Linked DNA regions of Homo sapiens: region 2 is linked to region 1. The links come from fine-mapping of genetic effects on gene expression. A gene starts in region 1. The other region holds a variant in brackets. All regions are shown on one strand. Distances are between the middles of the regions. Region 1 holds the start of CSNK1G1 (casein kinase 1 gamma 1). Region 2 overlaps CSNK1G1 (casein kinase 1 gamma 1).

Region 1 (2,784 bases):
CTCTGAAAATTCACATATCTGTTCTGAGACATCACTACACAGCACCTAGTATTCAGTCACTGATTGAAACAAAAATGAAGAGGATCTTTCTACTTCATTTAAATTAGGACAGGTTTACTGGCAGGTAAGAAAGAGGCTGCAAAAGCCTTGCCTCAACATGTCTTGCCTAGACCTGTGATACATCTATATGGTTTCCCCAGTCCATTCTTTTTAAATAAACACGTACATCTACTACACAAGACTACACCTGGACTAGCCTATTGTTAAATGCTTTTCAGAATTCCACTTTTCTAAGGTAATTTATACCGGAATTAATATCGAGCTGGGAGACTTGGTTGAATATGTCATTCAGGCACTTTCCAAACATCTTAAGTGTCATTTAGGGGCAACAAACCCAGTTCCACTCTCTTTTACATTGTGATGCCTGCCCACTTGGGGGACATTGCTCCTGTAGGACGTGGGGGCGAGGAAACAGTAAAGGAAGAAGTGGGGGAAGCGTACGGAAGTTGGGTAGAGGAAAGTCTCATTACCCACTCTTGTGCCCTAAGCTCCGCCAAGGGCGGCTCCCCGCGGTACCCAGTCGACTCAGAACCCCCACAACCTTCGAAGTCCAGCTCTGTCCCAGCGGGGTGGGTAGGGAAAGAGGGCAATGGAAGCACGGGATAGCCCCAGTCACCCTGACGAGATCTGTGCCCTCCTTTTGGCTCCCGGGGGATGCTCCCCCTTTCAGAGTAAGCCCTCCAGGTGGCAAACTCCCGGTCCACACCGGCTAGAGTCAGTTTCTCGGAAGGGGCGCCTCCTCCGCCTACCTCTACCCCGCTAACCGAAACTCTCCACCCGCTGTGTCCCTCAGCCCCTCCATTCCGCCCCCGCAACCCTCCACAGACACAAACGCCAGCCTGCGCCCCACCCGGGATCACGGCGTCCCCCACCCACGCCCAGGAAAGGGCCCCCCACCAACCCCCTCAGACACACACACACCCCCTCAGACTTCAGCCTACAGAACCCCGACGAAGCCGGGCAGATACCTGGTCCAGCAGTGCTGCAAGGCGCAAATGAGGCGGGCGCGGTCCCCTCCCCGAGGCGCCAAGTGCTTCTCTACCCACCCGCAGCGGTGGTTTCTCTCTTTCCCAGGAGCGGGAGGGAGGGGAGAAGGCGGACGGGAGGGGGAAGGCGAGGAGCCGAGGGGCGGCTGGAGCCGAACCGGAACCACTAGCGCGGCCCCGCCCTCGTCCCGGAGTCGCAGAGTACCCTGGCGGGCCTAATAGGACAAACTTTGGGCAGGCAGCGTTAAACTGACACCATCACTTCCGGGTTATCCCCACGGCTGCCCCCTCCTTAGCAACCGCGTGGGGTTGCTAAGCGGAAGTGCCTTCAAAGCAACCCACCCCCATTTCTTCTGGGACTACCAGAAGATATATCGGGAGCACTGAGCTCTGCTTTGGCAACACGCTCTTACCTTCTGCTCAAGATCTTAGACCAAGTACACGCTTCGCTGCCAGAGGCACGAAACCCATCCCGCTTTTCCCTTCAACTGTACTCCTCCACCAAGCCCCCGTCTCTATATACTCCTGCTCCCTCCCACCCTTAATCCCGTGGCTGACCCAGTGGCTGTTCCTAAGGCTCCAGGCTCCTCTCTCAGGTCCCTCGAGGGAATTATTTTCTGACGGTTTAGCAAGCATCTCCCTCTTGTGGATTTTTAATTGTGTTTCAACCAGATTTTTAAAATTTCTTTCAATGTTGTGAAAGGTTTTTCATGCACTTAGTTCTCCTGTGACAGCCCATGAAGCCGAATGGTTAGAAAAATGTTGTCTTCACCTACATTTTGTAAGAGCTGCACATGTTTGTGTAAGGTCTGGAATTAACCTAGCCAAATGGAATAGGCAAAAAAGATTCAATGTAACTCGACAGTTATTTTAATCCTTAAAACAGAGAGCAGGGCACATGTTCTCAGGACCTCTTGAGACTGCGCCTCGGGGGCGGGGTGGTGGTGGAAAAAAGACAGAAAACAAAGAAAAAGGCTAAAGGGAGCCCATAATCAAATTTGGGAAGGAAGAAGACTGTCTAATCCTCCACTCAAAACTCAAAATATGCCGGGTGCGGTGGCTCACACCTGTAATCCCAACACTTTGGGAAGCCGAGACTGGCGGATCACGAGGTCAGGAGATGGAGACCATCCTGGCCAACATGGTGAAACTCCGTCTCTACTAAAAATACAAAAATTGGCCGGGCGCGGTGGCTCGCGCCTGTAGTCCTCCTGTAAGCACTTTGGGAGGCCGAGGCGGGCAGATCACGAGGTCAGGAGATGGAGACCATCCTGGCCAACATGGTGAAACCCCGTCTCTACTAAAATACAAAAAATTGGCTGGGGGTGGTGGCACGTGCCTGTAGTCCCAGTTACACGGGAGGCTGAAGCAGGGGAATTGCTTGAACCCGGGAGGCGGAGATTGCAGTGAGCCGAGATCGTGCCATTGCACTCCAATGGCACTCCAGCCTGATGACAGAGCGAGACTCCGTCTCAAAAATAATAATAAATAAATAAACAAACAAACAAAAATTAGCTGGGCGTGGTGGCGTGTGCCTGTAGTCCCAGCTACTCGGGAGACTGAGGCAGGAGAATCGCGGGAACCCGGGAGGCGGAGGTTGCAGTGAGCCGAGACCGCGCCACTGCCCTGCAGCATGGAGACAGAGCTAGACTCCGTCTAAAAAAAAAAAAAAAAACCTTCAAAATAAACTTTCATACCGACACTATGGATAAGAAAAGAGACCTCATTTATTGTGTCT
Region 2 (2,784 bases), 110 kb before region 1:
GCAATAAAGTCTTTCCCAGACAAGCAAAAACTGAAGGAATCTGTCACTACTAGACTGGACTTACAAGAAATGCTCAAGAGAATCCTGCATCTGGAGGTCAAAAGATGATAATTACCATCATAAAAATACGTAAATCTATAAAACTCACTGATAAAGCAGATACACAAAGGAGAAAGAGAAAAAGAAAAAGAATCAAACCGTATCACTACAGAAAACCACCAAGTTGCGATGATTAACAGTAAGAGAGGAATAAAGAATATATAAAGCAACCAGAAAAAGATTAACAAAATGAGAGGAGTAATTCCTCACCTGTGAAAAATAGCCTTGAATATAAACCGATTATATTCTCCCACTTACAAGATGCAGACTGGATGAACTGATAAAAAACGATGACCCAACTATATACTGCCTACAAGAAACTCACTTCACCTATAAAGATATATACAGACTAAAAATGAAGGGATGGAAAAAGATATTCTACACAAATGGAAACCAAAAGCAAGGAGGAGTAGATATATCAAAAGATCTTAAGTCAAAGCTGTAAAAAGCAACAAAGAAGGTAATTATACAATGTTAAAGAGAACAATCCAGCAATAGGATATAACCAATTGTAAATATATGTGTGCTCAATGTCAGAGCACTCAGAAAGATAAAATATTATTGGATCTAATGGGAAAGATAGATTCCAGTACGATAATTGTTGGGGGCTTCAACATCCCATTGGATTTAAACATCACTTTAGACCAAATAGACCTAACAGACATTTACAAAACATTTCATCCAACAGCTTCAGAGTATATACTTTTCATCAGCATATGGAATATTATCCAGGACAGGCCATGTGTTAGGCCTCAAAACAAATTTCAAAAAATTTAAAATAAATGGTATAACAAATATCTTTTCTGACCATAAGGAAATAAAACCAGAGATCAATAACAAGAGGAACTTTAGAAACTGTATAAATACATGGAAATTCAACAACATGCTCCTGAATAACTATAGTGTCAATAAAGAAATCAAGATGGTGTACAGCAATAAACACATCAAAAAAGTAGAGATTTCAAATAAACAACCTAATGATGCATATCAAGAAACTAGAAAAGAAAAAAAAAACAAGTCTAAATTCAGTAGAAGGAGAGAAATAATAAAGAGCAGAAATCAACAAAATTAAGACCAAAAGTTGCAAAAGATCAATGAAACAAAAAGTTGTTTTTTT[A/T]AAAAAAAAGATAGACAAAACCAACAAACCATTAGCTAGACTAACCAAGAAAAAAATGAGAAGACTCAAATAAATAAAATCAGAAACGAAAAAGGAGACATTACAACTGATACCACAGAAATACAAAGAATCATTAGAGACTACTATGAACAACTATATGCTAACAAACTGAAAAACCTAATGGAAATGGATAAATTCCTGGACATATACCACCAACCAAAACTGAACCATGAAAAACACAACCTGAACTAATTATGAGTGATAAGACTGAAGCAGTAACTTATTCCATCAAAGGAAAGGCCAGAACCTGATGGCTTCTGATATAGTTCAAATATTTGTCCCTGCTCAAATTTCATGTGGAATTGTAATCTCCAATGCTGGAGGTGGGGCTTGGTGGGAGGTGTTTGAATCATGGCGGTGCTGTCTTCATGGTAAGTGACTTCTCATTAGATCTGGTCATTTTTTCCCCCACTTTCCCCCGACTCCCAGTCACTCTTCTTCCTACTTTTGTATTGTGATGTACCAGTCCCCACTTTGCCTTCTGCTATGACTGTAAGCTTTCTGAAGCCTCATCAGAAGCCAAGCAGATGCCTGGTGCCACACTTCCTGTGCAGCCTGCAGAACCATGAGCCAATTAAACCTCTTTTCTTTATAATTTATACAGTCTCAGGTATTTCCTCATAGCAATGCAAGAATGGCCTAATACGGCTTCACTACTGAATTCAACCAGATTTATATCAATAACTAATATAAATTCTTCTAAAACATTAGAAAAGTGAAGAGGAGAAAATTCTTCCAAACTCATTCTGAGTCCAGGATTACCCTGATGCCAAAACCAGACCAGGACACAACAACAAAAGAAAACTACATAGCAATATTCCTCATGAACATAGATGCAAAAATTCTTAACAAAATACTAGCAAACCAAATCCAACAATGTATAAAAAAGATAATTCACCATGATCAAGTGGGATTTATTCCAGGGATGCAAGAATGATTCAACATACATAAATTAATATATGAGATATATCTCATGAATAGAATGGACAAAACCGTATGATCATCTCAATAGACACAGAAAAGGCATTTGATAAAATTCAACATCCCTTCATGATTAAAAAAAAATCCTCGGCTGGGCGCGGTGGCTCTCGCCTGTAATCCAAGCACTTTGGGAGGCTTTGAGGAGGGCGGATCATGAGGTCAAGAGATCGAGACTATCCTGGCCAACATGGTGATACCCTGTCTCTACTAAAAATACAAAAATTAGCTAGGTGTGGTGGCGTGAACCTGTAATCCCAGCTACTCGGAAGGCTGAGGCAGGAGAATCGCTTGAACCAGGGAGGCAGAGGTTGCAGTGAGCCAAGATTGCGCCACTGCACTCTAGCTTGGGAGACAGAGCGAGACTCCATCTCAAAGAAAAACAAAACAAAACAAAACAAAAAAAACCCTCAACAAACTAGGTACAGAAGGAACATACCTCAATGTAACAAAGGTCATATAGGACAAATACAGCTAACATCATTTTAAACAGGGAAAAGCTGAATTTCTCCTCAAAAAATTGGAACAAG

What was found. PIP is the estimated chance that this variant, and not a neighbour inherited with it, causes the effect.
Region 2: its variant is fine-mapped to the expression of CSNK1G1 in whole blood (INTERVAL, PIP 0.90).

Annotation. Positions count from the first base shown.
Region 1 is chr15:64,354,960-64,357,743 of GRCh38, forward strand. CSNK1G1 (casein kinase 1 gamma 1) reads right to left here and starts at 1,214. Exons shown (of 12, transcript NM_022048.5): 1 at 1,029-1,214. RefSeq lists silencers at 480-539, 930-989, 1,100-1,149.
Region 2 is chr15:64,240,708-64,243,491 of GRCh38, forward strand. All of the region lies in intron 4 of CSNK1G1 (casein kinase 1 gamma 1), which reads right to left. Among named protein-coding and RNA genes, the nearest start is that of PPIB, 79 kb to the left of the region's middle. The variant A/T (reference allele first, on the strand shown) is at 1,217.